Homo sapiens: one gene and its partner. The protein of the gene in region 2 purifies or fractionates together with the protein of the main gene of each other region. This does not show direct contact. Each region holds a gene or a part of one and is shown on either strand. Other genes may lie near its edges.

Evidence for each region. The genes of interacting proteins can lie anywhere in the genome.
Region 1: the proteins of TUSC1 (region 2) and PRMT8 purify together in Homo sapiens (co-immunoprecipitation; one large-scale study listed by IntAct). This does not show direct contact.

What each region holds. Positions count from the first base shown.
Region 1 is NC_000012.12:3,497,703-3,501,202, reverse strand, and holds part of PRMT8 (protein arginine N-methyltransferase 8), read right to left. Parts: intron 1-3,500. UniProt on the Homo sapiens protein: S-adenosyl-L-methionine-dependent and membrane-associated arginine methyltransferase that can both catalyze the formation of omega-N monomethylarginine (MMA) and asymmetrical dimethylarginine (aDMA) in proteins such as NIFK, myelin basic protein, histone H4, H2A and H2A/H2B dimer.
Region 2 is NC_000009.12:25,676,469-25,679,884, forward strand, and holds TUSC1 (tumor suppressor candidate gene 1 protein), read right to left. Parts: upstream 1,977-3,416; 5' UTR 1,845-1,976; coding exon 1,215-1,844; 3' UTR 501-1,214; downstream 1-500.

The DNA.
Region 1 (3,500 bases), on a different chromosome or scaffold from region 2:
CAGGAGAAGGAAATAAAGGGTATTCAATTAGGAAAAGAGGAAGTCAAATTGTCCCTGTTTGCAGACGACATGATTGTTTATCTAGAAAACCCCATCGTCTCAGCCCAAAATCTCCTTAAGCTGATAAGCAACTTCAGCAAAGTCTCAGGATACAAAATCAATGTACAAAAATCACAAGCATTCTTATACACCAACAACAGACAAACAGAGAGCCAAATCATGGGTGAACTCCCATTCACAATTGCTTCAAAGAGAATAAAATACCTAGGAATCCAACTTACAAGGGATGTGAAGGACCTCTTCAAGGAGAACTACAAACCACTGCTCAAGGAAATAAAAGAGGACACAAACAAATGGAAGAACATTCCATGCTCATGGGTAGGAAGAATCAATATCGTGAAAATGGCCATACTGCCCAAGGTAATTTACAGATTCAATGCCATCCCCATCAAGCTACCAATGACTTTCTTCACAGAATTGGAAAAAACTACTTTAAAGTTCATATGGAACCAAAAAAGAGCCCGCATCGCCAAGTCAATCCTAAGCCAAAAGAACAAAGCTGGAGGCATCACACTACCTGACTTCAAACTATACTACAAGGCTACAGTAACCAAAACAGCATGGTACTGGTACCAAAACAGAGATATAGATCAATGGAACAGAACAGAGCCCTCAGAAATAATGCCGCATATCTACAACTATCTGATCTTTGACAAACCTGAGAAAAACAAGCAATGGGGAAAGGATTCCCTATTTAATAAATGGTGCTGGGAAAACTGGCTAGCCATATGTAGAAAGCTGAAACTGGATCCCTTCCTTACACCTTATACAAAAATCAATTCAAGATGGATTAAAGATTTAAACGTTAGACCTAAAACCATAAAAACCCTAGAAGAAAACCTAGGCATTACCATTCAGGACATAGGCGTGGGCAAGGACTTCATGTCCAAAACACCAAAAGCAATGGCAACAAAAGCCAAAATTGACAAATGGGATCTAATTAAACTAAAGAGCTTCTGCACAGCAAAAGAAACTACCATCAGAGTGAACAGGCAACCTACAACATGGGAGAAAATTTTCGCAACCTACTCATCTGACAAAGGGCTAATATCCAGAATCTACAATGAACTCAAACAAATTTACAAGAAAAAAACAAACAACCCCATCAAAAAGTGGGCGAAGGACATGAACAGACACTTCTCAAAAGAAGACATTTATGCAGCCAAAAAACACATGAAGAAATGCTCATCATCACTGGCCATCAGAGAAATGCAAATCAAAACCACTATGAGATATCATCTCACACCAGTTAGAATGGCAATCATTAAAAAGTCAGGAAACAACAGGTGCTGGAGAGGATGTGGAGAAATAGGAACACTTTTACACTGTTGGTGGGACTGTAAACTAGTTCAACCATTGTGGAAGTCAGTGTGGCGATTCCTCAGGGATCTAGAACTAGAAATACCATTTGACCCAGCCATCCCATTACTGGGTATATACCCAAAGGACTATAAATCATGCTGCTATAAAGACACATGCACACGTATGTTTATTGCGGCACTATTCACAATAGCAAAGACTTGGAACCAACCCAAATGTCCAACAATGATAGACTGGATTAAGAAAATGTGGCACATATACACCATGGAATACTATGCAGCCATAAAAAATGATGAGTTCATATCCTTTGTAGGGACATGGATGAAATTGGAAACCATCATTCTCAGTAAACTATCGCAAGAACAAAAAACCTAACACCGCATATTCTCACTCATAGGTGGGAATTGAACAATGAGATCACATGGACACAGGAAGGGGAATATCACACTCTGGGGACTGTGGTGGGGTCGGGGGGAGGGGGGAGGGATAGCATTGGGAGATATACCTAATGCTAGATGACACATTAGTGGGTGCAGTGCACCAGCATGGCACATGTATACATATGTAACTAACCTGCACAATGTGCACATGTACCCTAAAACTTAGAGTATAATAAAAAAAAAAAAAAAGAAAGGAAAAAAAAAATAAATAAATAAATAAAAATAAAAATAGGGTCTTTGCAGATGTTATCAAGTTAAGATGAAGTCATATTGGATTAGAGTGGCCCCTAATCCAACAAGACTGTTGTCCTTATAAGAAGACGTATAGACACACACAGGAAAGAATGCCCTGTGAAGATGAAGGCAGAGACCAGATGATGTGTCTATAGCCAAGGAAGGCTGAGCATCGTTGGCCACCACGGGAAACCAGAAGAAAGGCAAGGAACAGATTCTCCATGAAGACTTCAAGAGGAACCAACCCTGCTGGCATCTGGATTTCAGACTTCTGGCTTCCAGAACTGTGGAAGAAGACATCTCGTTGTTTTAAAGCCACCCAGTTTGTGGTACTTTATTACAGCAGACCTAGGAGGGTAATACAGGTGATGAAACTACAAAGATAAATTTTAAGAAACAAAGTTCCTGTCCTGGAGACTTTAGTATTCATTTTATCCCAATAAAGTAGCTGGATGAGAGTCCAGATCTAATATTGATGGCCTAGGGTCAAGCTTCCGAAGAGCTATACTTTGTTAGACAAGTACATTGTCTACTGGGTCCAGCTAGGAACCCACGCCTAGGGATAGTTTAGATGCGCAGGGAGAGTGAGGTGATGGCTGTCCCTGCCACAATTATGTCAGGCCCCTGTCACTCACACGGCACAGTACTGGAGACTGTGAAAGTGAGGATGGCAAGATGGCGGTGGAAGCAAGAAAAGACGTCCTGGAAAAAGGAAAGCTGGGCTGGTGTCTCTTCCTAGGCTTCTTCCAAATTCACCATTCCACATTCCTGCTGTTAATTTCTCCACCCTTTCTCTTCACATTTTAAGTTTGTACTCTGGTTCTTCTCATGCCTTCGCAGCCTAGCGGACTAGAAAAAGCATTTTGGTGATTAGAAAACCAGACTTTGAGCTCTAGCCTCATCACTTACCAGCTGTGGGATTTTGAGCAAATAACAGTAACTCTCTGTGCTTCAGTTTATTAATCCATACAATGGGGATATATGTAATTCACAGCATTGCACACAATGCAATGTAATAAGCGAGCATTTTAAGTTCTACAAGAAGGTCAGAGCTCTCACTATGCACAATTCCTAGACCTTATGCAGAGAAACACTGGTCTTAGACAGTACAGATCAGGATATACCAGAAAGTTGGCACAAAAAATAAAAACAATAAATGAGATGCTACGTTTAAAGGAGGTATAAAGAGCACAGACCCAGGAGTCCACAGGATCTTGACCCCAACACGGAAGAGCTCTGTGATATTGGACAAGTAGTTCCTATCTCCTGACTTAAGTGATTTGAGTTTCCACCCAACTTTAACATTCTATGACTTTATGAAAATACGCACATCAAGCTGTTTGCTCAATATAAAATTACACTTTAAAAAGAGATCTTTACTTATGGGCCACTCATTACAAATATGGGAAAAACTGTGATGCTTGAGGGAATTCTTATAACAAGTGA
Region 2 (3,416 bases):
TGATTTTTTCCCCTGAAATGTTTTCCATCATTGAAACACTCTTGGACCTATGATTTTTTTATCAGGCACAATGGTATCCTCTTCATTACTTAGTTGGCAAAAGTGTTATTAACGAAGCGCAATAAAAGTAATTTTAGGACATTTATTGCTAAACTAGTCACTTTTTTGTGCCATTGAAATAACAACTGAGACTTAAATTACTTTGTTAGGGGAACTTTTGATATACAAGTAATTTATAATTTCTTAAAAGTCCTTAGTCAAAATAAGGCAAATTATCTACGTACTAATTAAGCTAATTGAACATTAAAGATTAAAATAACTTTTAGACTACCTAATCTTTAGATTATTTTAAAAGATCACTGTTACATGAAGCTAAAAGAACATGATAGTTTACTAAGGACAACTAAAACCAGATTTAAATTAGTATATTCATAAAGGTATCTTTTTAAAAATATAAAAATGTAACACACTTCAAATAATACTCGCCGCAACCTTTCAGATAATTTTTAATGCACCAGATTTATTTACCATTTCAAAAGATCACGATATAGGCAGATACCTTAAAAATTCTCTGGGGGCAAACAAATCAGTATATATTAGATGTACAGGGACTGCAGCCAAGACAGGCATGAGTTCCTAGGTTATAAATATCATCTTTATAAAAAGTGGGTATTTTATAGGACATCCAAGTAACACCGACTTATAAAAGCAAACACTGTACTTAAAATGTTGGCCACATATGAAAGAATAGCTGAAGGCTTTAGGGGATTGAAGAATGGATAAACTCAACCAACTAAAAACACATTACTCATCCCTCAGAACCAAAATACAGGAAAAAAAAAAATACAACAGGTTCGCACAACATCCAGAAAAGTTCAGGGAATATGAAGTGTTTCTTGGCACCCAGTTCTCGCTGTTTTAAAATCCGTCCCTTCGTTGTTGGCTAGGCCTCTCTCCAGGGAAACTAGCCGGGGCAAGAGGCAGGGGAACTGTACATGTGGGAGGTCCTGAGGGCCCTTGCACCCACTCGACCTCCACCAAGCGGATGGCCAAGCGCCACCCGGAAGTGTCCACTGGTGGGGGCGGGAAGGCACCGTAGTCCAAGGTATCCGCGGGCAGGGAGCGGGCCAGGGCGTGCGCGAGGTCGGGGGTAGCTGGGAACGGAGGAGGAGGGGCCCGCTCGAGGCTCCGCCTCTCACCGGCTGCGGCCTCGGCTACAGCCAGGGCCCAGAGGGCTCCGAGTCCCGGGAGCGGAGGCCGGAGTCGGGTTCCTGTAGAGGCTGCTCCTCCTTGTCCCCGCTCGGACGTGGTCCCCGCTGCTCGAGGTGCAGCTGCAGCAGGGCCCGGCGGTACATGGCTTCCAGCTTCTCAAGTCGGGCCCTCAGGGCCCTGGGGCTGCCCGGCTCGTCCTCTCGGCCGCTGTCTCTAGCCCTCCGGTTCGTGCTGGCCTCTTCAGGGACCCGGCGTGCCTCCGCGGGCGTCCCGTTGCCGCCTTCGCCGGGGAGCCGCAAAGCCTGACGGAAGAGGCTGCGGTTCTCGCGCTTCAGCCGCCGGTTCTCGAGCCGCAGCCGGGCGTTCTCCTGACGCAGCCGCGCGTTCTGCCGGTCCCACTCGTCCCGCGCACGGATGGCCTCCAAGTGGCTCGCCGCCAGGTCGGCAAACCGCTCCTCCAGCTGCTGTCGGGCGCCGTCCGCGCGGCCTCGCCAGCCCACGCCGCCGCCGCCGCCGCTGGGGCTGCCCCCACCACGAGCCCGGCCGGAGCGGCCTGGCCCTCGGCCGTCCGCAGCACCGTCCCCGCCGCAGCAACTCCCGCGCCTAGTGGCGCCACCACGCATGCGCCACATCGGTCCCATCCCAACCGCGCCGCCAGCCCCGTGGGCTGAGGGGCCGCGCGGCCAGGCGCGGGCAAGTTCGGGGCTGGCAGGGCGGCCGGGGTGACGACGGAGGAGGAGAGGAGGTCGCGGGCGGCGGCTGCTGGCTTAGAGCCAAAGGAGGCCGGGAATTTGCCCAGACTGAGGCGTGTCCTGTCTCCTGTGGTGGAGCTGCCCCCTGGGCCTGCTCTCTCCAGGCTGCGCTGACACACAGTTCCCCCGGGGAGTGCTTTGCTGTTCAGCCCTCCGGCTGCGCGGGAAAAAGCGTGTATCCTCAGCTGAGTTGTGCCAGGGCGCTTCCGTGCAGGCCTGGGCACTGCAGGAACTAGCCGTCCTCGCCCGCTCCGGAGTGCAACCACCAGTGGTTACTTTGCTCTTTACACGGCATTCTCAAAACTAATGATAATAGAATGATCGGTTCTGAGACAAAGCTATGGGGCAAGTTGAAAAGCTCTAAGTGCTTCATTTAAAACCCAGTGGTTTAACCCACCCCTATGTTTAATAAAACATTAAACAGAATTGGGCTGAGTACCTGTCATGGGGTTTCCCGGTGGAAACACCTGGCTCTCCAAAGAATGCAGTCAATTCCCAATTTGTGAACAGCCAGGAATTCACTCTGTAAATTGTTCAGAACGCTATAGAAACTAGGTCATACTTAGTTGATTTGTTCAGGCCAACCCCCAAAAGCTATGAAACAAGAAGTGCTCTGTTTATTGAAGAAACTGAATACTTAGTTCCAAAGTTTCTGGGATCAAGGATGTACATCTCATTGAATGAATCATTCCTTCTTGTAGGGTCTCAACCTACATAGTAACTGGATGATTGCAAAGTAATTTAAGGATTAGGTACTGACGCCAGAATCTCTTAAGCAAGTATGCCCTAGCAAGAATCTACATGTCTAACAGGGTCCCAGAGAATTCTCAGGATAACCAAAATTTCCAAACCACTGGAGCAAGTAACGAACAAGAAAAACATATAAGTACATACATGGGGTCTTCATTGACAAGTACAAATAAGGGGAAAATATTTGCTCAATTTTTTTGTACTTTTATTTTGTTAGGCAAGATCTTAAGAGACCACAACACCAAATGTGTTCTCAATTATCTCATTTTATCACATGAAAGATATAATTTTGGAATTTCAAAAAATATAAATTTAGTTTTAAGAAGGACCACATTCCAGGCCGGGCGTGGTGGCTCACGCCTGTAATCCTAGCACTTTGGGAGGCCGAGGCGGGAGGATCACAAGGTCAGGAGATCAAGACCATCCTGGCTAACACAATGAAACCCCGTCTCTACTAAAAATACAAAAATTAGCCGGGCGTGGTGGCACGGGCCTGTAGTCTCAGCTACTCGGGAGGCTGAGGCAGGAGAATCACTTGAACCCGGGAGGCAGAGTTTGCAGTGAGCTGAGATTGCGTCATTGCACTCCAGCCTGGGCGACAGAGCAAGGCTCCTTTTCAAAAAAAAAAAAAAAAAAAAAAAGGAGCATATCATTCTTGAGATGGGAGTTTCGCTCTTGTTGCCTAGGCTGGAGTGCAATGGC